Regions from separate parts of the Homo sapiens genome. Here regions 2, 3, 4 and 5 are each linked to region 1. Evidence: fine-mapped expression QTL. A gene starts in region 1. Each other region holds a variant in brackets. All regions are shown on one strand. Distances are from middle to middle. Region 1 holds the start of HDAC4 (histone deacetylase 4). Region 2 overlaps HDAC4 (histone deacetylase 4). Region 3 overlaps HDAC4 (histone deacetylase 4). Region 4 overlaps HDAC4 (histone deacetylase 4). Region 5 overlaps HDAC4 (histone deacetylase 4).

What was found.
Region 2: its variant is fine-mapped to the expression of HDAC4 in whole blood (TOPMed, PIP 0.93).
Region 3: its variant is fine-mapped to the expression of HDAC4 in whole blood (INTERVAL, PIP 0.91).
Region 4: its variant is fine-mapped to the expression of HDAC4 in esophagus muscle (GTEx, PIP 0.97).
Region 5: its variant is fine-mapped to the expression of HDAC4 in CD4 T cells (CEDAR, PIP 0.95). The same link has a PIP of 0.9 or more in NK cells, monocytes, monocytes after LPS, monocytes after interferon gamma and neutrophils.

What each region holds. Positions count from the first base shown.
Region 1 is chr2:239,397,861-239,402,961 of GRCh38, reverse strand. HDAC4 (histone deacetylase 4) reads left to right here and starts at 1,942. Exons shown (of 27, transcript NM_001378414.1): 1 at 1,942-1,984. It overlaps HDAC4-AS1 (HDAC4 antisense RNA 1), which reads right to left and starts at 1,526. Exons shown (of 2, transcript NR_135575.1): 1 at 1,426-1,526; 2 at 605-887. RefSeq lists an enhancer at 734-863 and silencers at 994-1,263, 1,534-1,653, 1,674-2,113, 2,124-2,293.
Region 2 is chr2:239,336,429-239,341,529 of GRCh38, reverse strand. The region is part of intron 2 of HDAC4 (histone deacetylase 4); the gene reads left to right. Among named protein-coding and RNA genes, the nearest start is that of MIR2467, 13 kb to the left of the region's middle. The variant T/C (reference allele first, on the strand shown) is at 1,980.
Region 3 is chr2:239,317,743-239,322,843 of GRCh38, reverse strand. The region is part of intron 2 of HDAC4 (histone deacetylase 4); the gene reads left to right. Among named protein-coding and RNA genes, the nearest start is that of MIR4269, 15 kb to the right of the region's middle. The variant A/G (reference allele first, on the strand shown) is at 2,302.
Region 4 is chr2:239,176,830-239,181,930 of GRCh38, reverse strand. All of the region lies in intron 4 of HDAC4 (histone deacetylase 4), which reads left to right. Among named protein-coding and RNA genes, the nearest start is that of HDAC4-AS2, 14 kb to the left of the region's middle. The variant C/T (reference allele first, on the strand shown) is at 1,914.
Region 5 is chr2:239,046,584-239,051,684 of GRCh38, reverse strand. It overlaps HDAC4 (histone deacetylase 4), which reads left to right. Exons shown (of 27, transcript NM_001378414.1): 27 at 1-3,517. Among named protein-coding and RNA genes, the nearest start is that of MIR4440, 20 kb to the left of the region's middle. The variant A/G (reference allele first, on the strand shown) is at 2,851.

The DNA of each region.
Region 1 (5,101 bases):
AGACAGCCCCTCTGACACATAATGGCAGACACAGCCACCCAGGCCAAGTTTCTCTTTTCCAGACATGGCGAGTGAGGTTCTTGCACCATCCACCCAACGTCTGCGTGGTGCCTCACTCTGCTGGAGTGCCTCTCAGGACTCCTGTGAGGACTAAATGGCACGCAGCAATGGGGCTACCCATTCCTTCTAATGGAAATCTACTTTTTAAAAATTACCTCTGCAAGCATTAGATCCCAGAGCTCGTTTCACGTGACTTTTTGCGCAGGCACTTCTCTTTGTACGTGAAAAACTAACTTTGGTAGACTTACAGGCAGGTTTTAATATTTTCTCGTGATTGTATGTTTTTGAGAATCCTGTCAAATGATACTGAATCTTATCTAGATGTTAGCTAGCTACAGACCCTGTTTCATTCTACATGAAAATTAGATAGTGCACCGTTTCCATCAGCAGCCAAGTCTCCAAAACCCCGTAATTGCTCTCCTTTTCTTCAGCTGTATCTTGTTTTAAAGTTCTCTAATTCACCATTCCTTTCCTTCTAAGTTTAGCCTAAGCATTTCTTGCAATGACCAAAGTTTTCTAATTATTAATGAGATATTTAAGGAAATGTAAAATTGGCATTTTTATTTTGCTAACTGTATTTTTATCCACATAACTAGTTTCCCCCACCAAGAATCACAGGTCGAGAATGCTGTAAAAACGGATCCTTTCTCAGCTCCTAAAAGGAATGGCCTACAATCGAAGCGAACGCGCATCTCCGCCAGGTCCGCAACCACAGGCCCACGCCGTCGGGCCCCACGAACCGGCGCGCGCTGTCAAAGGCGCTTCCTCCCTGGAACGCGGGATTCCGGGGACAGTGTGTGCACTCAAGTTGAAAAGTTGTCATACTCCTGTTGGAAAGAAACGGAAACATCACCACCAGGAGGGTGGCCACTGAAGACCCTCGCCGACACCTGCTGGCAACCAAAGGCGCTTCCGGGGATCTACGGGCCGACCTGTAACTCAACACAAGCCTCCCAAGCCCTGCGGCCTTAAAACAACGCCCACCCGGGCGGTGCGCCGTTCCCGCCACCTCCACGCCTGCCTGGACCCGGACTCGAGACCCTGGCGGCGGGCCGGGCTCCCTCCGCCTGAGCAGGGACGCGGCGAGCGCATCCCACGACCCTCGGCAGCCGTTGCAGGCCTGGCGGACCTACACCCCACACCCTCACGGCCGCGTTCCCGCCGCGGGGCAGGGCGAGGCCCACGGCGCCTGCGCACTCAGTGACCGGGCCGCCCTGCGCCTCCGTGCGCACGCAGCACCACGTGACCCACTGCCAGTATCCAAGATGGACGCCGCGGCGAGGCCTGGCCGGCTCCCCGCGTTAGCCTGCACCCCATTGTGTGCCCTCTAAGCGCGAATTAGGCTCGCAGACATGCGGTGCTGACCGCTAGGCAGCCATGCGGGCTACCGAGTGCGACCGGACACGGCCGGGGCCCGTGTTTACGGCCACTACTGGCCCCCGGTCCCTGCGCCTCCTCAACCGCGAAGCACCCAGCGGCTGGCGCCTGGAGCGTCTTTTGGTACGCCCCACCCTCTAGAATTGGCAGCTCCAGCAGCCAATGAGGTCCAGGACGCGTGCGGGGAGGCGGGCAGGGGTGGAGCCTCTCTGCCGCTCATAGGGCATCCGGCCCCGCGGTTGAGCAGCCGCTGGGCGAGGGGTGGGAGCAGACGGGCTGTGCGCAGGTTTCAGCGGGCCAATGGAAGGCCGGCCAGGCGCCCGGGGCGGGCGGGCGGGAGGCGGGGCCGAGCCGTAATTGACGAGCTCTTCATTAGAAACCAGGCGGGAGGGCGGGGCCCGCAAGGGGAGGTGACGCAAGGCTGCCGCAGCCAATGGTTGGCGAGCCGCCGGCTGGCTGGGCGGGGCCGGGCCGGCTGACGGGCGTGCGGGGTGGCCTATCGCCGCCTGGCTCGACGCTGGAGTGGGGAGAAGCATCATGGTTCAACGTGGGTCAATTTTTTGTGAATGAGGAGGGGAGGTTGTGGGGCCGCCGCCGCGGAGCACCGTCCCCGCCGCCGCCCGAGCCCGAGCCCGAGCCCGCGCACCCGCCCGCGCCGCCGCCGCCGCCGCCCGAACAGCCTCCCAGCCTGGGCCCCCGGCGGCGCCGTGGCCGCGTCCCGGCTGTCGCCGCCCGAGCCCGAGCCCGCGCGCCGGCGGGTGGCGGCGCAGGCTGAGGAGATGCGGCGCGGAGCGCCGGAGCAGGGCTAGAGCCGGCCGCCGCCGCCCGCCGCGGTAAGCGCAGCCCCGGCCCGGCGCCCGCGGGCCATTGTCCGCCGCCCGCCCCGCGCCCCGCGCAGCCTGCAGGCCTTGGAGCCCGCGGCAGGTGGACGCCGCCGGTCCACACCCGCCCCGCGCGCGGCCGTGGGAGGCGGGGGCCAGCGCTGGCCGCGCGCCGTGGGACCCGCCGGTCCCCAGGGCCGCCCGGCCCCTTCTGGACCTTTCCACCCGCGCCGCGAGGCGGCTTCGCCCGCCGGGGCGGGGGCGCGGGGGTGGGCACGGCAGGCAGCGGCGCCGTCTCCCGGTGCGGGGCCCGCGCCCCCCGAGCAGGTGGGCTCCGGGCCGCCGGGAGTGAGGGCGGGGGCGGGCGGGCGCCGGGGCCGGCCGGGCGCCGTTTATGTAACTTTGTCAAATGCTGTGAGTTTGCAGAAAAACGTCCCTGCCGGGGGTCCGCGGCCCCGCGCTTGTCGTCGCCGCTGCGAGCGCCCGGGGGGTCGCGGGAGGGCGGGGGGCTGCCCGGGACCCGCTCGGCTCAGCCCGCAGGGCGCCAGCAGGCCGAGACGGGGCCCGGTCCCGCTCGGGGGTGGGATCCGCGTTTGCCGGCGTTGCGAAAACACACCACGGAATCATAAGCAAATTATCTCGTATTTACATTGAGCGTTGAATTATTTGACACTGTTATAGGAGGAGACCGTGCGTATCAGTTGGAAAGGCCGGGGGTGGAACCCAGTGTACTCATTTAATGCACATCAAAAATTTGTAATAACTTGAGGCAGCTGATATGAGTGTTTTCTTTATTGCATGTTGTAAATTGACCTGCTGTGACACAGTTTTCAAATAAAGCGTTGCAGAAATTAAACTTAAGTTATTTTAAAACTAATGACTTTCTTCACTAAATCCTAATTGCATGACTGTAGAGACCTACCTAATTGCTTGCTGAGAGCAGTTCTGCTTGCTCTCCGTGAGGGAGGAAAGGGCCTGTGCAGTCACTTTGCCGCCCCGTTTTTCTCTGTTCAGGCTTTTCTGTTTATTCCCACAAATCACCGAAGCAGTTAAGGCCTGGGAGTAAGCCTGTAAACAGTCCTGGCCCAGCGCCAGCCCAGCAGGACTGGGGGGATACTGGCAGGTTTGCACCTTGACCTGGTTTCACTTTTTCTTTTGTAATATGATCGTGGTTGCCTGGAGTTTTAATTGCTTCTGATAATTCTGTGCATTATTTTCGGGACTGTCCAAAGAAGGCTGGTGTGGTGGTTTCAGGACCTAGCCAGGAAAGGTGGTGGTGGTGGCTGGGGAGAGGGAGGGTGGAAGGGAGGGAGATCGAATTAAGAAAACTCAGCTGCTTGTACACAAATATACACTACAGCAGTTACAAAGCAACAAAAGTTATTGCAGAATTTTGCAGTAACTATGGCAACACAATTACTCTATTATAATTGGAAATGCAAAATGCCACCGAGTTAGAAGTTTCATCAGAATGGAGTTTTGGATATCAAAAATATGTGAAATTTAATTTTTTTTCAGGTAGCTCTTGTGAATTCTAAAATCTGTGTTCAATTACCTATTTTTAAGACTGATCGGGCTTTCCCAGATATTCTACTCTCTGGGATCTGTGGCATCTTTCCCCAGAAGAACTCACATTTGTGTGGGAGGGAAGTATTTTCATGCCTTAAAAACACACACCCCAACACATTGTAAGACTTCTATAGCTTTCTGTGTTCTGGGCTTTTATTTTAGAGATCAAATCCCATCCTAAAGAGAGCAGTAATCAATTAGAAAAGAAGCCGGCTGTACTCAGCAGGCAGATGTAACGCTGCCCTCTTTAGGGTTCTTTCTCCTGCAAGGGGAGCTGGCAGCAGGCATGCCCCCGGGGGAGCCCTGGGCTAAGGGGACGGGGTGGAGGGAAGATGACTGGACTGCATATGGGCCTGGAAGGCCTAGGGACGAAGGACAGATGTGGCCTCGGAGCCCTGCACCAGAGAGAATGTTCTGTGTTCAGCAGCTTCCTAGCCATGCAAAATAAAAATCCCCAAATGCCATATTCTCGGAGGCCTTGGGGGCTGTTGCTGTAGCAAGATGGACAGGACAACCTGGCACGCTGGCCACGTGCGGCTCAGGCAGCCCATCTGGACTCTGTGGCCAGAGACCTCGTTGAGAAGAATGCCCTATGGATGTTTACCAGGAGGACTCTAGTGCTGGAAGTTTCCACACATTGTGGGGTTGCTGCAGTTTAATTTTGTTATAACTCTTTCCTTTTAACTACTGCATATTTATGCCCAGTAATCGACTTCCATTCTCCAGCTTCATTGTGAGGTTTCAATGCAGCATGAATGGCTTTGAATTCCAATCCTTTAATGTTGGGGGTGGCACCAAAGGAAAGGCGACTTTATGCTGTCTTAATTGCCGGAGCAGAAGAAACATTTCATCACTCCTGTAGAATTCATCCATACCATTCTCTATTGAAAACGGCTGGGCTTTCATAGCTCAGAAGCTGCCATGAGTAATATATTAATACCTGATGTAGGGCGCGAAGGAGCCGCAGAGGCCGAGAGAACTGCCGTTGCTGAGAGGCAGCGGGGCGACAGGCTGTGGCCGGGCTTTCCTCCGAGGCTCAGAATTGATGACTAGCTGGGGATGGGGGAACTGAAGGGCGAAGGGGCCCAGTCTCCACCTAAGCTTGGGGCTGTGGAACCGAGACTGAGCCCCTGCCCTGTTGTTGGCAGCCCCCAGTCTGTCCTGGGGTAAGGAGTCGGAAAGGATGGATTTGGAGGGAGTGTTTGTTTTGATTTCAGGTGGTCAGCATATGCCCTGCCGTGTGGTGGGCTCTGGGTTTTTGGCCTTGACGTTAG
Region 2 (5,101 bases), 61 kb after region 1:
ACCTCTTCACATCTAGGGTAAGGCCGTATTGAGGGGAAGTTCCTCCCTCCCTGTTAGGTAGTGTGATGCAGAATTCTTGACACTCTTTGTTTTCACATGGACTGAATCCAAATCAGGTGGGGCTGATTCTTCCAGCCCTGTCTCCTCATCCCGGTCTGACACTGCACAACACAAACCTTCCTGCTGCAGGCTCACCGAGGTGCTGCCTGGCCCTGTCTTTGCCTGAACACCTGCAGTCTCAATGTGGCTGTGCGGGAGCAAAGGCGGCCTTCGCCCCACGTCTCTCTCATGTGCTTCCATAGCACTGCCTTGTTTTTGTGAAAGGATCGGGGAGGGAGGAAGGCAAGGTTAATTTTTTCTTTCTGATGTACTAGTGGATAAAAAGAGTTCTAGAACATTTGAGGAGGCCCTAGGGGAAACTGGAGACATGGAAAGCAGAGGTTTTCGTTGGTAAACCAGAGAGATGAGGAGTTTTAGTTTTTGTAGTGCCCGATGCATTGTACGTGTTGAAAGCCGAGTCCTTGATGGTAATGGTGGCTCTGATGATGGTGGAGATGGGAGGTTAGGATCCCCTTAGAGATGTTTAGTGGGTGCTGCAGTGAGCCCAGTTTTCTGAGTGACAGGGACTAGGGTGTGACTGCTGAAGAGGGGGCCAGATCTTCAGTGCCCTTTATCTCTGGTGGGCTTCTCATCCTTGGTCTTGCAGCATCAGGATGGGGCCAGGGTGCCTGGCCTGGAGGGGTGGACTTGGGCCGAGGACTGCAGGGCACAGATGTCCTCTCAGTGTGGCCCTCAGCACGGGGAGCCCTGTGGCTTTGAAGCAGATGCTTCATTCAAGGCAGGTGGTTCTTTTCTGAACACAAACATACACGTGAGCATCCCCAAAGGCTGTTTTTGAGAGATGGTGTGTGTCTCCATGTCCAGGCTGTTGTAACAGAATGATAAGGTGCAGAGGCCATCTGACAGCTGGAAGGGTACAGAGGCATCTCTAAGCAGCAGCACCGATGGAGTACCCAGCCTGGAAGTGCTGACACCCCACCATGGTCCTCCTCTGTCCCATGCAGCCCAGCCTTTAGGAGATGCACCAACAGGCATTTGGGTGGCAGACTGGAGCTCAGTGGGGCTGCCCCCACTGGGGCCCCTCTGTAGCTTCTGAGAACAGTTGAATTGTCTATCTGCCTTCACATCTATCTGTGATTTGGTTCCCTTTTGTTCTTCGCCAGTCCTCAGTAGGATTTGGTAAGACGTAATTTCTCGATGGTTCAGGAAGACGGGTGGGGCTGTGTCCATGCTTGCACAGCCTACTGTGAACAGCTGAGCTCACTGCCCTGTGACTGGCTTGGTGTAGCTGAGGCTCAGGGAAGAGCTGGGGTGTCCTGGGGTGAGGGAGCAGCAGCACCAGCAGGACCCCATGCCCCAACTGCTGCAGGGACCATCCTGGCCTGAATGTGTTAGAAACTAGGAGGGTATCTGGGGTGGGGACACATCCCACTCTTCTTGCTTTGTGTTCAGGCCCCCAGCCTCTTTCTGTCATGATGTCTTGATGTCTCCCTACTCAGCTGCTAGCACTTCTGCTGAGGGAAGCAGTCACAAAGGCCGGTGGCCCTGGCCTGAGCATGGATGTGGCTTTCTTGGTTCTTGGCTGCGGTTTCCTTGAACTCTCTGTGGTCTGCAGGACCTGATGCATGAGAATCACATGTGGGGAGGGTGTTTCTTGTGTTTATCAGTGTTTCCATTTCTTTGGAAGTTACCTGGATGCTGTTATGAGTGGATTTGGTGGACTGATTTGCATGGGTGTGGCCTCAAGGACTGCATTTTCTAAGGAGATGGTGTTTTTAATGCCTTAGCCAGGAGATTGCAGGGGGCCGCGGGCCACATGTGTGGTTCTCTGGGAAGATTCTGCTCTGGAGCTCTGCTGAGGGATGTTATTTCAAACTTCAGTACTATCTTCATGAACAAAAGAACAACGTAGGTCTCCG[T/C]TGAGTTGCTCACATCACCCGAGAGAGCATGGCTTTGGTGCTCCTCACCCATGTCCAGATCAGAGCATTTAGGCTTCACCTGGGGAATGGACAGGGGCAGGAGCTGGGAGATCACTGCCCAGGGGTGGCTCTGTGTCCGGGGTGACCTGGACTGGGCCCATTGCCTCCTGGGGCTGAGGTTGCTTCCTTTCATCGGGCCCTGTTTCTTTAGAAAGATACTGGGCTTTGACTTTTGCCTTCTGTCGGCACCTGGCCCTGCAGCTGATGGAAACTGGCAGAGCAAAGGACTTCACTGGGACAGTGAGCAGTGGGGCAGCCCTGTGTTTACAGGCAACCCCAGACCCTCTTATGACAGAAGGGGAGGGCAGGGCAGCCGGCCTTCACCTGGATAGGAACAGCAGGTGGCTGATGTATCTGAGTTGGTATATTCATTCAGAGACATTGGTTAAAATTACTTGTCAATATAACATCTTTACCATTGTTTTCTTCAAAGCCAGATTCTGTATTTTCTGATTTTATGTAAACTAAATACATAGTTTTCTTAAATACAGATGACCTCTGCCTTCACAGTTTCTTTGGATACCTTTCAAGTCAGTTTAACACACATGCTCTCCGGAAACAAAACTCAGCCACTGGGGAACCGAACCTACGCTTTTGGTAGAATCTCAGCCTTGGGGGGAGCCTGGAGGCCCTGAGCCCTGGATGACACCTGCTCTGGAATCCTCCACCAGTGGCTTTTGAAATGTGGTTGGTGGCTGAATCTCACTTCTGCCTTGGATGCTTATGGAATCTTCTGGATGGACTGAGCTCAGAATCTCATTGAATACTGTGGTCCTCTCAGTCTGAACTTTGTACCTAAAAATCCACGGGAATCTCATAGCAGCTGCTGAGGATTTGGAGAACTCCCTTAGAAAAATAAAAGGAATTTATTTTTTCCTATTTTATGTAGTGGCTATTTAAATTTTGAACATCAAATGGTAGTTTTGGATTTTAAAAGCTCAGTGTGAATAAACTTTGAGCTCAGATGCAGCCGTTCTTTTAGTGTGTCAATTTTAATAGGTGTCATTTGATGTTTGCACTAGGGGGTTGGACGAAGGTCGGTGTGAGAATCTCAGGGATAACTGGGCTGCTGCAGGGGTCAGACAAGGCCTCCTGTAATAGGGATTTTGGGGCACTGATGGAATGAAGGGAAGCGGGAGGAGAGGGTAACGAGTAGAGGCTGCCGCTGCCCCAGTTGTATTAGAGGGTGGTGAGGGACGTGGTGGATAGGAAGCTGCATGGGCCTCCAGGAACTCACTGCACTGGCTTTGAGTCGCGAGAGAGGTGCCACGGGAGGTCTAGAAACCGTGCATTTTGGGACTGAGATAAAACACGTCCAGCTGGTGGCACAGACCAAGCCAGCTGGGAGCGGAGTTGTCTCTCTGTGCTTGTCTGGAGTACCTGCCTGTGCTCTCTGAGCAGCCTCTGCACCTGGCTGGTGGGCGGGGCTGAGCCTCACCTTCAAGGCTGCAGATTCCCTGGCTTTCGGTGTGCTGGGGGATGCCTTCTGCATGGCCTGGCTTTCCTGGGATTTCCAGACCAGATCCACCTCTTTCTCCCCTTTTTCTTTGTCTTTCTGCCCCCGAAGAGATAGCAGTGTACAAAAACAAGCCAGCATTTCTTGTTCTCTTGCTATTTGTAATTGTCCCGAGCCTGGACTGGGTCCAGTCCGCTCATTTATTCTGCCAGGGCCCAGTCTGCAGATCTCAGCCGAAGCCGGTTGTCCTGCCTGGCTCGCTCTGTTCCTGGAAAGCTTTGTCACGCACAGCCAGGGGCCACTTTGGGTGCATCCTGTCTCCCCCGTCGCCGTATGTTTGGGAGCAGAAGTTGGCTCTGGTCAGATATGTGGATGTTAATTTATCCTCATTCTTGGAAGCAAGTTGGGAGCTCAGAGGAAAGGAAGAGCCACAAAATGTCAAACCCAGCAGCGGCCATCTGACTCGGTTGCTCATCGCTATAATATGTGATTAAGATGGAAGTGTTTGATTTCCTCGCTTGCCGGATTTAGGCCTCATTTTGCTTACTCCCGTGAGTCCTGATTTCTTCCTGTTAGAGAGAGGAAGTTTGCAGCGATAACCGACTTGCAGTGGGGTTTTCTGTGAATGGAGCTTGTATTGGTGCGATGTGTGGCGTGGGAGTCCCCACCGGTTAGTGGCTTATGCAGGGTGTGAGTTTCTCTCAAAGTGGACGTTTTCTGCCTTCCCGGAGCCAAAACGTTTATTTCGCCGGTGAGTACAGCTGAGTCTCACGTGCATCTGACAGCAGTGTCTCCGAGCCTTGCCATTTCCTCCACTCCCTCCCTTGGAGCCGTTTGTGTGACAACCTGCTGTTCAGTAAAACCAGTTTAGTGGAGTGGGTGTGTGTTAATTCTAGTCCATGTGTTTAAAAATCAATTCATATGATGAGAATGGCACTTTCCCCCGTGGTCTTCCTCTCAGTAACCCATAGCCCCAGTCCAACCATGGGAAAAACATCAGACAAATTCCAGTAGACACCCTTCCTACAGTCTACTCTTGCCAGGCCCACTCGATATGCCAAGGTCATCAGAAACAAGCATCCTTTGAGAAACTGTCACCACCAGGAGGGATCTCAGGACATGCGACACCTAAGTGTGATGTGGAATTCCTGGATGGGATCCTGGATGGATCTTGGAATACAGTAAAAGACATTAGTGGGAAACTTCAGGAAATCCTAAACTCTAGAATTTTAGTTAATGACAGTAATGTCAGTATTGGTTCCCAATTGTGACTAACATACCGTAGTAAGGTAGGATGCTAATAATCGCGGGGAATGTGCAGGTGGTATTGGTAGGGTATATGGCAGCTCTCTCTACTGTCTACTCAAGTTTTAATAAAATATGTCAAGAATTTTGAGTTCACAAAATGAAGTACATTTATAGATACTCTCTTTTGCTTAATGTTTGTTCATGAATGGCTGTATACTGTAGTTACTTTAGCACCTAGCTTTTACAGTTTTTCCTTTGGGGACTCTTTTTTTTATGGTTGTGCATGGATGTGGTAGAGTAACTTAACAAGTCATTGTTGGTGGACAGGGAGTTTGTTTTCAGCCTTTCCATTGTTGTT
Region 3 (5,101 bases), 80 kb after region 1:
GGGCAGACATTGGTGACGTCGCTTATCGAAGCCAGGAGTGGGGCCCCGGGTGTGGGGCCGAGTGACAGACCCAGGCTACCCACACCCGGGCAGGATGAAGAGTCTCAAGAGTGCTTTCCTTAGGCTGGTTCCCGTCCACACACCAGCACTCAGCCAGTCAAGACACCTCTTGTGAGCATCTGCTACATGCCAGGCTGCTGTAAGCACTGGGGTCTACTGGTGAACCACACAGGAAAAGCCCCCACCCATTGCCACACCCAGTGCCAGTGGGAAAGTCAAACAGTAGATGGGTAAATAAACAACTACATAATGGTAAATATGGCTGGCAGTGATGGAGTCTGCCCTGCACAGGCACTTTGCTAAGTGTTTTCTACATATTTACAGCTGTGATCCCCACAACAGCCTACGGATGGGTCCTACTAACCTTACATCATCTGTATTTTACAGATGAGAAAACAGAGGCATTGAGAAAGGAAGTCACTGGCCCAAGGGGCTGTGCCAAGCAACTGACTCTTAACCAGTGAGCTTGCGCTCTGAAGTGTAAGGCTTTACTCCCCTAAACTTGTCATTGCAAGGCAGTAGAATAGGATCTGGAGACAGGGGGCCTTCACTTCAGCATCCGATTGGTTGCAGGCTGAGCTTTCACTTCAGCCCCTGATTGGTTGCAGGCCAAGTCTTCATTCGCATAGGGTGTAACTTCACTTTGGCCTCTGATTGGTCATGAGCCAAGTCTTCATTTACATAGGGTGTAACCAGTAGGAAACCTCTAAAGGGTACTTAACCCCCAGAAGATTTTGCAAGTGGGAGTCTTGAGCAGCTTGCTCTGGAGCTTGCTCCTGCTCTGTGGAGTGTACTTCCGCTTAAACAAATCTGTGCTTTCGTTGCTTCATTCTTTCATTGCTTTGTTTGTGTGTTTTGTCCAATTCTTTGTTCAACATGTCAAGAACCTGGACGACTCGCAGTGAAGACCCTCCCCCTTAACAACCGGATGTGCCATCAGGGATAGATGCTGCCCTGAGAATGATGAAGCCAGTGTCTAGGGGAAGTCCTGGTGTGGGCGGGAGCTGTGATGTTCTGTGCTCTATGGCAGGGCTTTGGAGGGCTTTGACTGGGCCAGAGCAAGTAACTATAAAATGTCAGACCTTAGAAGAAAAGCATCCTGTACTCTGACAGGAAGCAGCATGAGTTGGTTGTCACTAAAAGGAAGAACTTCTGAGAACCCCACAAAGGACCCAGTTAGGTAATTGTTGAAAGCTGCTACTCCTTCAGGGATAATGTAATATTTTTCCAACATTTACACACGTTCACCTTATTTAAGATTGGCTCAAAACACAGAAAAATGTAAGCTAACCTTTTTTTTTTTTTTTTTTTTTTTTTTTGAGACGGAGTCTTGCTCTTTCACCCAGGCTGGAGTGCAGTGGCGCTATCTCGGCTCGCTGCAAGCTCCGTCTCCCGGGTTCACACCATTGTCCTGCCTCAGCCTCCTGAGTAGCTGGGACTACAGGCGCCCGCCACCACGCCCGGCTAATTTTTTGTATTTTTAGTAGAGACGGGGTTTCACCGTGTGAGCCAGGATGGTCTCGATCTCCTGACCTCGTGATCCGCCCACCTTCACCTTCCAAAGTGCCGGGATTACAGGCGTGAGCCACTGCGCCTGGCTGCAAGCTAATCTTATGAAGCTTAGAGTATCTTGATTTTAGAACCTGCAAGAGACAATAATAAAGCAAACGTTATAAGCACATTTTGTTTGTAAACATAGGTTTAAAACCCTGAATAGAATATTGGGGAAAAGAAAATAACAGTACATTATGTAGTTATTCGTTATCAAAGGTTTTATTACAGGACAGTTGTTATACAAGGAAAGCGGTATAAATCATGTAAATATGAGAGAATGTTTTGAAAAATAAAAAAGATTAGATAAAATAATTATTTCAGTTTTCATAATTGATTTTAAAATACCCAAGTTGGAGAGAATATGTAGTTCTTACAAGTTGGGGATCATTTGAAAGCAAAAATGAATCTTTTTCATGGTTGGAAAACTCTAGAGGCCTTGTCTTAACAAGAGCTGTGTTCTGAGGTTGACCTTACGGTAGCACATGTGTTCAGTATGGCTTGAGATGTCAGCAGTTTCATTAAGATGGGAAGAACCAAAATAAATTCACATAAAAAGACTCAAAAAGATTCAGAAAATTTTATAGATTATCAGAAACCCACTAGAATCATGGATTTTGTATTTGCCAATAATTAATAGCTAGAAAAGTTCAACAGCAAAATAGTTTTGATTAAAATACATATTTTTAC[A/G]TAACAGAAGAGTCCTACCAATTTCCTTATTTCCATATTTGGCAAATTTAGATTTACCTATGTCATTTGTCACTGGTGGAGATCAGCATTCCATTCTCTATAATTCCTTCTAAATTTTTTTGTTTGTTTGATTTATCACTTTTTTTTTTTTTTTTTTTTTGAGATGAAGTCTCACTCTTGTTCCCCAGGCTGGAGTGCAATGGTGCGATCTCGACTCACTGCACCCTCCGCCTCCCAGGTTCAAGCAATTCTCCTGCCTCACCCTCCCGAGTAGCTGGGATTACAGGCGCCTCCCACCACGCCAGCTAACTTTTGTATTTTAAGTAGAGACGGGGTTTCACCATGTTGGCCAGGCTGGTCTTGAACTTCTGACCTCAGGTGATCCGCCTGCTTCGGCCTCCCAAAGTGCTGGGATTACAGGTGATTTATCACTTTCTCAGCCCGCTTAGTCATTCTGTTTTTATCCCCTCCACACGCATTTATTTTAAATTTTAATTATAAATCTCTAATTAAAGAATTAAACAATTCATAGACATTATCTGCATCATTTAAAGCAATACAATAGCAGTGACCGTGTGCTCTGTGAGACAGAGACCACTACAAGGACATTTACATGTTTGCTTTTCATTCTGCTGTTTCCAAAAAAAAGTTTTATCATACATGCACATGTTCCTAAACAATATGATTTTAGTTTTATGTTTTTGAACTTCATGTAAATAGAATTATACTATACGTTTTCTATTTCGTGGGTTCTTTTTCAGGCAGGACTGTTTTTGAGAACCAGGTTTCTGCCTGTAGCTGTCGGTGACTGGTGTTCATTAGTGTCTTGCATTCAATTTTGTGAATTTTCACAACTTTGATTCATGTTCAGATGTGGCTGCTCTCAAACATGATGTTGTGGACATTCTTTTGTGTGTTTTCTGACACACGCAAACTTGGGTCTTTGCCAGGTTCCTGCCTGGGAATGGGAGTGCCGGGTCACGGGTAAGCTACTTTTAACTCTGCGTGACCTCCAGCACGGCCACACCGTCTTAGACCTAGTGCCAGTGTCTTCAGGCTGACCAGGGCGCCTTGCTCGGTCCCGGGAGGTGGCCCTCGCCTGGCCTGTGCCTGACCGCCAGCCTGCTGTGGCTGTCAGTGTCTTCTGACATGGGTCACCCATTTTTATGTTTGTTGTTGGTTTCGTTTTCTTAATCATTTGCAGAATTGAAATATCTGGGTGTGTGTGGCTTCCTTCCAGCAGCTAACGGGAGGCTGCGGCCGTGTGCTGCCTTCATTGTCACAGCTTCCTATGGCCACTGCTCCTTAAAGTTTCCTATATGTGGATATTACTTGCTTGCTGTTTCTTGTTGAATATCAGATATTCTGGTTTTTTGCTCTTACTTTTCTTCTGGAAGTAATATCCTTTGGAAGTAATATCCTTTAGAAATTCCTGCAGAAGTTCCGTTTTTTGTTCGTCTGAGAGTTGCCTCCTTTTCCTTCATTGTTGAATGATCCCTCACAGAAGACAGTGCTGGGGAGGCAGCTGCTCTTCCCCAGGGCTCTGAGGATGTGATTGGTTCACTCAGTTCCACTGGGGCTGTTCCGTTCCTTGGCAGGAATCCGTTGTGTCTCTCTAGGTGTTTTGTAGTCTTAGTGTTCTACATTTTTGTAAGCGTTTTCACTTACCCCTGTTGATATTTTTTTGGACTTCCTGAATCTGAAGATTAGTGTCTTCCAATAATAATGGGGAATTTTATTCCTTAACTTTTTTCTTTTTAACTTTTAATTTTGCTGTAATTTCAAACTTACAGAAAATCAGCAAAAAATAGTCCAAAGAATTACTGTTTATTGATATGCATCCTTTTTTTTTTTTTCAGAATCGTTTGAAAGTTAGTGTTAGATGTGATGCCTTCCCCCAACTAATAATCCAGGCCATGTTGCCTCAGATAAGCGTGGTCACTCTTCAACTACGGTCAGTGAGTAGAGTTGGAAAATAACAGCGAGCAGGCATTGTTCTCTCATCTGTAGGCCTTGTTTATGTTTCGCTGATAGTCTAGTGATGTCTCGTTATCAACAGCAGATGACAGGCCCTGCAGGGCCTTCAATTCTCACGTCCTCCCCAGTCCCCTTTGCTCCGGGACAGTCTCCTCGTCATTTTTATGTTTCGTGACATTCACATTTTGGAAGCGTAGGGGCAGCTATTTTGTAAAATGTTTTTCAGCTTGGGATTTCGGCATGTTTCCTCGTGATTGGATTCCAGTGATGCCGCTGGGCTTGGCGGCCACCGCAGTATTTCGTTGCTGCTGATGCTGCCCGGAAGCTCTCAGTGAAGGTGATGCTGGCGGGTGTTTCCACTGTGAAGTTACATTGTTTCCTGCATAATTAGCAGGTATCTGGTAGGGAGATAATCTGGGACTGTGCAGACAGCCTGCTACTCCCCGAGCACTGACCCACAAGTCTCAGCATCATTGATGGTTCTTTGTCGGAGTCTGTTGTTGTCGTGGTGGTGGCTACTGGTCATCTAGTGTCACCGTTCTTGCTACATTCAGGACGGGAAGCCCTCATTAACCTCAGGAGGTTCTTGGAAACTGACTTTTAAGTGAAATGGTCATCTAGTGTCACCGTTCTTGCTACATTCAGGACGGGAAGCCCTCATTAACCTCAGGAGGTTCTTGGAAACTGACTTTTAAGTGAAATAATACAGAATAAAACCAAGGTTATTTTTCTCACCAGTGCACCAGTGTTATAGTCAAACGACTGGCATTGCTTGAGGACCCTCTGTCGTTGGCTTAAAGTTGCGGTTTCCAAGAACCTGTGG
Region 4 (5,101 bases), 220 kb after region 1:
TTAGTGTCTGCAGGAAGTCGGCGTCTCTAGGCGACATCTTTCAAAAGTGACGGTTTGATGACAATCAGGCCGCACGGAGGCAAGCCCAGACCAGCTCTTCTGAGTGTTCTCCCCATGCCACCTCTTCCAGTCCTCACAGGAACCCTTGGGGGCAGGTGCCACATTTAACCCAGCACGGAGAGGTTAAATATTTAGGTGCAAGTGCGCTGGCAGCAAGCAGGTGGGTGGAGCAGGTTTTATCAGCCAGGCAGCCTGGCCTGGGCACTGCCCTCCAGCCAGCGTGCTATGGGCCGCCTGTGAGTCTTCGGAGGCCAGCGCTGCCCTGATGAAGGACACGGCAAGAGCTTGCTTATGTTTATCCCACCATCCCCAAGAAGTTCATTTAAGTTGGTTGTTCGGAATTAAGTTTTTGCCATGGGAAAGATACAGGTGAGATGCTTGGTGTGTGCAGCTAGCCCTGACGGCCCTCCCTGCCCCTCCTGCGCACACGCTGCTGCCGGGCGTGGTGGGTGCCCCCTCTCCCTCGGCCCACCCAGGCCTCCTGCCTTGCCTGTGCCCACACATCTGCCAGGAGCAGCACCCCTGCTGGAAGGCAAGCCTGCATTGCACCTGCCTGGGTAGGGTCTTGCCTCAGCCCCTCCTCTCCTCCCTCCTTCCTTGGGTGTGGGCCTACCTCCTGCCACCTCTGCAGCTCTTCTATCCCCGTGCTCCTGGCTGGAATTGAGTCCCACCCCCCTTGTGAGGGCTGTAGGTGGGTGGGCGTGTTTGTGGACAGGGCTTTTCATCTGTGAGGAGAGCCGGCAGGTCCTGTCCCCAATGTCTGGATGCTGATCTGCTCTCTCTGCTGCTGTAAATCCTTGCTGTGTGTGACCACAGGTGTGACTGGGCAGACCTGCCTAGAGCCCGAGGTCCCACTGCCCTGGACTCCAAGCGATTCCTGTGGGGCTCTGCCATCCAGGCCACTTCCGCTGCCATGGGACAGTGGACGGGGAGGCTGGCTGTGGGCTGCAGGCTGCAATGACCCAGCCCAGGTGGGCCGGGAAAGACCAGCGCTGTGGTCTCCGTCCTGGAGGCTGGGGCAGCCTCAGTCCAGAGCTATCTGCTGGGGTCACTGCAATGGGGCAGGCGGTTTCTGCCTGGGGACTCTTCCTCGGGGTGGGCCATGGGGGGCAGCGGCCCAGCACACCCTTCCATCCACATGGGGCACTCATGAGGGGCAATCATGTTCATTTTGCTTGTTCACTGCCAGCGCCAGTTTGAGGTTGCCGAATGCCATTTGGTTGGCCAATGCCTGTCTCTGTCCCTTGTCTGGGCTGGGGGCTTTACTTACAGAATGGAAGAATGAGGAGTTTTACCTTACAAAATTACACAGTTGATGTTACGTTTAACATCGTGGACACAATGTGATTCAAATTTCACACAGGTCACAGACATGCGGGGTGACTGGCATGTCTCATCTTGAGTAGGAAGAGGCTGTGAGCAAGCTGAAATCCTTTCTTCCCTATTTACAAGTGGTTCTGGGTGGTCGTGGAAACCGGCTGAGTCCTCAGCAGTGGGAAGCGAGGTCCAGGAACGGGATTGATGCCCTGGTGAGGCCATTCCTCATCCCCTGCACCGCCTGTGACCATGAAAGGGCTTGGGCCAGGCTGTTTTTGCAGGCTGGATCTTCCCAGAAGCCTAGGGGTTGGAAAGGTGTGTGTGCTGGGTGCCCGGGGGCTGAGCTGGACCTCCAGGCTCTCGCAGGAGAGGGTGTGGTGGCCACCTGGAAGCTGGCTGTGCAGGGGCAGCAAGGGTGTGAAGCTTGCCAGTCGGCTCGGGCCTCTCATGTGAAGAAGGACCCAGCAAGATGCAGGAGATGTTCCCGGACACACACCGCCTGCCCCCGTCACCTTGCCAACGCCGCTGAAGGTTGG[C/T]GCCCACAGAGAAGGGCAGCGCCCTTGCACGCTCACAGTTACCTGGAGCACACATGCTCAATCCCACGCGCTCACTCACATTCAGAACGCACACTTGGGTGCACAAGCACGTTGATGTGCAGGTTCCTCCGTGCGGGCAGCCCTGTTGTCTTGGAGCAGCGAGCCCTGTAGCAGAAGGCTTGTGCCGCCTCCCACCCTGAGCACGCCGCGTGGGCTCTCAGGCTGTGGCACCTCAGGGACCCAGCCCCCCATCCCTGCTGGCCCTACTCTGTCGGGGTTGCCTCTGCCCGTCCGATGTAATCCTTTTCATCTGCTTTCCTACCCCTCAGCCACTTTTCATTTTCCTTTGTTATCACCTCTTGCTCTGAAGTGATGCGCATTTGTTGTAGAGCGGCAATCGGTCCCGACCTTTTTGGCACCAGGGACCGGTTTCGTGGAAGATGGTTTTTTCTGTGGACAGGGGTGGGGGACGCAGGAGAATGGTTTCGGGATGAAACTTCCACCACCTCAGATCATCAGGCGTTAGATTCTCATAAGGACCATGCATCCTAAATCCCCCACACGCACAGTTCACAACAGGATCACACTCCTGTGAGAATCTAATGCCACCACTGATCCAGCAGGAGCTTGAGCTCTGGCGGGAATGCTCCCTAGCCTGCCACTTACCTCCTGCTTTGTGGCCCATTTCCTAACAGGCCAGGGACTGCTGCTACCCGTCCACGGCCGGAGGTGGGGACCCCTGTCGTAGAGGGATTGAAGAATACACAGGGACGACAGTGTGACGTGGGTGGCATCCCATGGGCGCCAGTCCTGCTGTGCCAGCGCAGCCACTCATGGAGCACAGGCATCCAGTGGCTGCCTCGCACGCACACCCCACTCTATGCCTCAGGCGTCCGGTGGCTGCCTCGCACGCACTCCCCACTCTATGCCTCGGGCGTCCGGTGGCTGCCTCGCACGCACACCCCACTCTATGCCTCAGGCGTCCGGTGGCTGCCTCGCACACACACCCCACTCTATGCCTCGGGCGTCTGGTGGCTGCCTCGCACGCACTCCCCACTCTATGCCTCGGGCATCCGGTGGCTGCCTCGCACACACACCCCACTCTATGCTTTGCTCATCCTTTCCCTGGCCTGAGCCTCATCCTCCAGGAAGAATCACCAGCTGGTGGAAGCCCCACTCTGGAGCCAGCCCGGAGCCCCTGATTCACTAAATTTCCTCCACAGAAAGTTCCTCGGGCCACTCTGGTTGCCAGGATGCCTGCTTATCCCGTACCCTCTCACCGTCCCCTCTTCCTCCATAAGGGGAGCAAGACCAACAAAAAGCAACCCACCAGTGGCCGGGTGAGGCAGCTCACGCTCGTAATCCCAGAGCTTTAGGAAGCTAAGGCGGGAGGATCACGTGAGCCCAGGGGTTTGAGACCAGCCCCAGCAACAGAGCAAGATCTTGTTTCATCAAAAAAGAAGAAAACGTATCTGGGTGCAGTGGTGTGCACCTGTAGTCCCAGCTACTCAGGAGGCTGAGGTGGGAGAATGGCTTGAGCCCAGGAGTTCGAGACCAGCCTGGGCAACATAGCAAGACCCCTTCTCTACAATTTTGTTTTTTTAATTAACTGCCATCTATTTGGGAGTCTGAGGTAGGAGGATCACTTGAGCCCAGGAGCTCAAGCTTACAGTGAGCTATGATTGCGCCACTGCACTCCAGCCTGGGCAACAGAGCGAGACCCTATGTCTAAAATAAACAAGACACTGGGACAAGAGACAACTGGTAACGGAACAATCACTGGGGACAGCAGACAGACCATGACCGGGACACGTGCGGCCACAGAGGGTGGCAGAGAGGCTCTCCCAGGCAGGCAGGTGGCAGAGCTCCTCACACCTGTGGAGGCCTGGCACTTCCCCCGGGCTGGCCCAGGGGTTTGTGTGGAAGCCGAGGAAAGTGTGTGCAGACAGAACCCTGGAGCATGCGAACGAGAGCGGAGCCATCTCAGAGGAGCGGAAGGACGTGCGGGAGCCCTGGAGCCTGGGTTGGGTCCCAGGACAGAGGTGCTCTGGGTTTGCGGGAGTCCCTCTCAGGGCGTCTGGTCAGTTGCACCTTCCCACACTCGTCAGCGCCAGGCCAAATTGTTCCTTTTCACCTTTTCCGATACCGTGAGTGAAATGGGAAGTGTTCACTAGTGAGCTTGAACATTTATCCCGATTTCTTTTTAAACAGTTCTTCTGTGCATCTTGTTCTTTTCTGCCCAACGTTTTAGTGGGCTGCCTGTCATGTTCTCATTAATGGATAACAACCATTTATATAAAATTTGTATGTCATAAATACTGCAGTTTTTCTTTTACCTTCTGCCTTTTGTTATTAAGACAAACATTTTATGTCGACGTCAGTTTTTGAAATATGAGATATAATTTATACTCGGTAGAATGCCAGCCCTTAAGGGTGCTGTTGGGTGGCTGTGCCCTTCCCTGTAGACAGTCAACAGGTCGGACACTCCACCCGCTGGGGCGTTTCCTCCGGCCTCGGCACCCCCAACCCTACCTCACCCCCGCAGAGGCAGCCTTCTTCTGATTTTCATCCTTGTGCGTTAGTTTTTTCTGTTTTAGGGCTTCATGTGAATATAGTCAGCCCTCCATATTTTTGGGTTTCACCTCCACTGATTGAGCCAGCGGAGGATCAGAGCCTGGAGACACTGAGGGCCAACCACCCGTATTTCCACACCAGGCTGTGGTGGAATGTGCGGATCTGGAGCTGCAAGTGCAGAGGCTCAGCGGAGGGTCTTTCAGTCTTGCCTCTTCTCTCTGCTCTTTCACCCTCTGCCAACACCTGCTGTTTAGCAGTTCACCTGTGTTTTCTTGTGTACACGTAGGTTGTTGTTTTTTATGGTTAGGTGGTATTCTCTTTGATGAACACACATCATTTCTCCAAGTGTCCACCTTCGAGGGAACATGTGGGTTGCATCAAGGCTGGTCTGTGACCAGAGCTCCCATGCACATTCTTGTACAGGCTTTTTGTGGGTGTGCTTCCGTGTTTCGGATAAATAGCTAGGAATGGGATTGCTGGGTCTCGGGGCAGATGTGCATTTAACTTTATAAGGAAGTGCCCAGCAGTTTTCTGAAGTGGTTGTACCATTTCACGCTCTCTTCACTGTCTTTGTGTCGTTCTCAAAATAGCATTTCCAACTTGCAAGATAACAT
Region 5 (5,101 bases), 350 kb after region 1:
TACAAGTTTGTACTTTCATTTTAATTATTTTCTAACAGAACCGCTCCCGTCTCCAAGCCTTCATGCACATATGTACCTAATGAGTTTTTATAGCAAAGAATATAAATTTGCTGTTGATTTTTGTATGAATTTTTTCACAAAAAGATCCTGAATAAGCATTGTTTTATGAATTTTACATTTTTCCTCACCATTTAGCAATTTTCTGAATGGTAATAATGTCTAAATCTTTTTCCTTTCTGAATTCTTGCTTGTACATTTTTTTTTACCTTTCAAAGGTTTTTAATTATTTTTGTTTTTATTTTTGTACGATGAGTTTTCTGCAGCGTACAGAATTGTTGCTGTCAGATTCTATTTTCAGAAAGTGAGAGGAGGGACCGTAGGTCTTTTCGGAGTGACACCAACGATTGTGTCTTTCCTGGTCTGTCCTAGGAGCTGTATAAAGAAGCCCAGGGGCTCTTTTTAACTTTCAACACTAGTAGTATTACGAGGGGTGGTGTGTTTTTCCCCTCCGTGGCAAGGGCAGGGAGGGTTGCTTAGGATGCCCGGCCACCCTGGGAGGCTTGCCAGATGCCGGGGGCAGTCAGCATTAATGAAACTCATGTTTAAACTTCTCTGACCACATCGTCAGGATAGAATTCTAACTTGAGTTTTCCAAAGACCTTTTGAGCATGTCAGCAATGCATGGGGCACACGTGGGGCTCTTTACCCACTTGGGTTTTTCCACTGCAGCCACGTGGCCAGCCCTGGATTTTGGAGCCTGTGGCTGCAAGGAACCCAGGGACCCTTGTTGCCTGGTGAACCTGCAGGGAGGGTATGATTGCCTGACCAGGACAGCCAGTCTTTACTCTTTTTCTCTTCAACAGTAACTGACAGTCACGTTTTACTGGTAACTTATTTTCCAGCACATGAAGCCACCAGTTTCATTCCAAAGTGTATATTGGGTTCAGACTTGGGGGCAGAAGTTCAGACACACCGTGCTCAGGAGGGACCCAGAGCCGAGTTTCGGAGTTTGGTAAAGTTTACAGGGTAGCTTCTGAAATTAACTCAAACTTTTGACCAAATGAGTGCAGATTCTTGGATTCACTTGGTCACTGGGCTGCTGATGGTCAGCTCTGAGACAGTGGTTTGAGAGCAGGCAGAACGGTCTTGGGACTTGTTTGACTTTCCCCTCCCTGGTGGCCACTCTTTGCTCTGAAGCCCAGATTGGCAAGAGGAGCTGGTCCATTCCCCATTCATGGCACAGAGCAGTGGCAGGGCCCAGCTAGCAGGCTCTTCTGGCCTCCTTGGCCTCATTCTCTGCATAGCCCTCTGGGGATCCTGCCACCTGCCCTCTTACCCCGCCGTGGCTTATGGGGAGGAATGCATCATCTCACTTTTTTTTTTTAAGCAGATGATGGGATAACATGGACTGCTCAGTGGCCAGGTTATCAGTGGGGGGACTTAATTCTAATCTCATTCAAATGGAGACGCCCTCTGCAAAGGCCTGGCAGGGGGAGGCACGTTTCATCTGTCAGCTCACTCCAGCTTCACAAATGTGCTGAGAGCATTACTGTGTAGCCTTTTCTTTGAAGACACACTCGGCTCTTCTCCACAGCAAGCGTCCAGGGCAGATGGCAGAGGATCTGCCTCGGCGTCTGCAGGCGGGACCACGTCAGGGAGGGTTCCTTCATGTGTTCTCCCTGTGGGTCCTTGGACCTTTAGCCTTTTTCTTCCTTTGCAAAGGCCTTGGGGGCACTGGCTGGGAGTCAGCAAGCGAGCACTTTATATCCCTTTGAGGGAAACCCTGATGACGCCACTGGGCCTCTTGGCGTCTGCCCTGCCCTCGCGGCTTCCCGCCGTGCCGCAGCGTGCCCACGTGCCCACGCCCCACCAGCAGGCGGCTGTCCCGGAGGCCGTGGCCCGCTGGGACTGGCCGCCCCTCCCCAGCGTCCCAGGGCTCTGGTTCTGGAGGGCCACTTTGTCAAGGTGTTTCAGTTTTTCTTTACTTCTTTTGAAAATCTGTTTGCAAGGGGAAGGACCATTTCGTAATGGTCTGACACAAAAGCAAGTTTGATTTTTGCAGCACTAGCAATGGACTTTGTTGTTTTTCTTTTTGATCAGAACATTCCTTCTTTACTGGTCACAGCCACGTGCTCATTCCATTCTTCTTTTTGTAGACTTTGGGCCCACGTGTTTTATGGGCATTGATACATATATAAATATATAGATATAAATATATATGAATATATTTTTTTAAGTTTCCTACACCTGGAGGTTGCATGGACTGTACGACCGGCATGACTTTATATTGTATACAGATTTTGCACGCCAAACTCGGCAGCTTTGGGGAAGAAGAAAAATGCCTTTCTGTTCCCCTCTCATGACATTTGCAGATACAAAAGATGGAAATTTTTCTGTAAAACAAAACCTTGAAGGAGAGGAGGGCGGGGAAGTTTGCGTCTTATTGAACTTATTCTTAAGAAATTGTACTTTTTATTGTAAGAAAAATAAAAAGGACTACTTAAACATTTGTCATATTAAGAAAAAAAGTTTATCTAGCACTTGTGACATACCAATAATAGAGTTTATTGTATTTATGTGGAAACAGTGTTTTAGGGAAACTACTCAGAATTCACAGTGAACTGCCTGTCTCTCTCGAGTTGATTTGGAGGAATTTTGTTTTGTTTTGTTTTGTTTGTTTCCTTTTATCTCCTTCCACGGGCCAGGCGAGCGCCGCCCGCCCTCACTGGCCTTGTGACGGTTTATTCTGATTGAGAACTGGGCGGACTCGAAAGAGTCCCCTTTTCCGCACAGCTGTGTTGACTTTTTAATTACTTTTAGGTGATGTATGGCTAAGATTTCACTTTAAGC[A/G]GTCGTGAACTGTGCGAGCACTGTGGTTTACAATTATACTTTGCATCGAAAGGAAACCATTTCTTCATTGTAACGAAGCTGAGCGTGTTCTTAGCTCGGCCTCACTTTGTCTCTGGCATTGATTAAAAGTCTGCTATTGAAAGAAAAAGAAAGCGAACAGTTTTTGTTTGTTTTTTTTGCCGTGTGTGCTCCATAGTGGAGGCGCTATTTTCCAATTGATGAGAATGACAAACATATATAATCTATCTATCTATCTATCTATCTATCTATCTATACAGGGGGCTTGAACCTTACTCACCCAAGAGCTTCTTACGGAATGTGGTAGAAAACCAAGTTGTAACGACACTGTAACCTACCTGATGCCTGTTCGCGCCCGCCGTGAGCTGCGCACTGGCCGTGGCCACCATTCACCTCTGTAATTTAATCCGTTTCTCTTGGATTGTCTGGACGTGCCCGATGGTTCTTTCTTTTGCTCAGTGGAGTTGGAGGTTTTGTGTTTGGTTTTCTCATTCTTGTCTTGTTTTGTGTGGGTGGATTTTCACCGACCAATGATATCCTCTTCTGACGGTCACCTTCTTTCCACTTCACTGGAGTCCAGTATTCTGTACCACATCACGCAACGTGTTATCTTGTGGTGTAAATAAAGACTGCGTTACTTGCCCTCCCAGCTCTGGTTTCTGCCCGTGCGCTCTCTTCCTCATTGGCTCTCGCATGTCTGGGACCCTGTGGGCCGAATGGCCAGTGCCCTGGGTCCCATCCGGATGGCTGCATGGGAATCACTGGACCCCATGGGGACGGCCCCTAGACCCAGACCAGCGGCAGGCCCGTCCCCCTCTGCCTGCATAATCAGGTCCCATAGGAGTGTCTTCATTTTAAATGTCCAGTAATTTAAATCTTTACATTATCTTCTCCCCCAAAACACTTACCAAGCCATAGAGAGCTGGAAATAATCTTGGAGAGAACAAGGCCAAAGAGAGAGGCCCAGGGCCCAGGCTTAGCCACCTGCCCACAGCCGGGCAAACACACCTCTGAGACTGGAGTCCAAACACCAGCCACAGCTCCTGACCCTCAGCAGCGCCCCTTCCCAGGCTCCCGCATCCAGTGACTAATCAGTTGGGTGCCGGGCAGCGTAAGCACCAGGCCACCTTGGCCCAACTTAGGACAACTCAAGGCCTGCTGGCTTCCCGGAAAGTGCCTGAGCCCCTCCCTAGGCTGACTGCCTTCCCTCCTCCCCTGTCACAGCTGCCAACCCAAGGACACCTCAACCACCTTGCACACTGAAGCCCACCCAGTCTGCATCCCAGAAACCCAGCCCACGGCACCCAGGTTGCCCTTGAGCCCCCGAAAGAGGCCTCTGGAGCAGAGGGCCCTGCTGGCCCCAAGGCATAGCCCTGTGGCAAGGGGGGCTCAGTCGGCCCCAGTATAAGAAGAGGTACTTGGAGCCTGAAGCCACTGAGGCTGGAGTGGTTTTGTTATTGTTACTGATTCAGTTGGCATGTTTACTGGTTATAGTATATTAGTTATCTATTGCTTGCAACAGATTCCCTCAAAACTTAGCAGCTTCAAATAGCAGACATTTATTACCTTGGAGTTTCTGAAGGTCCGGAGTCTGGGTGCATCTCAGCAGGGTCCCTGTCTCGTCTTCCCTGGGGGTCCAGTCAAATGCTCAGCCAGGGTTCCTCTGGGGGCCCAGCTGCTGGGGGACCAGGCTGGGGGTTGGCCTCCAGGCACATGCCTGTGGCTGTAGGTGGCCACCTTCCCTCGCCTGATGGGCCTCTCCACAGGGCCGCCTCGAGGCCTTGCCGTCAGCGTCTCCCACAGCACGTGATCTAGGAGCAAGTGGAGAATGCACCAGGAGACACAGCCAGTCTTTTTATAGCCTCATCTCCATGGGCATAGAAGCCAGTGCAGGAGGCCAGCCCACACTCACGGGAGAGGCTTCCTCTGCTCAAGGCCCAAGGACCCTCAGGCTCAGATCCTGCAGCGCCTCCCTGGGTTTGTCCATCTCATGTGCTAGAGTAGAAAGTTGGAAGCTGGTCTACTCCTCTAGCCCAAGAGATGAAGACATCATTGCTCCCCAATAAGCAGATGGAATGAAGGATTCCTGGGTTGTCTTCTCCGCCCATTTGTTCTCCGCCCATTTGTTTCATTACTGGGGCTGTGAACTAGAAAGCTTTAAAATCTATTTTGGGATGCTAATCCTTTATCCACCATAAATTTCTAGTATCTTCTGGTCTTTAGATTCTCCTCT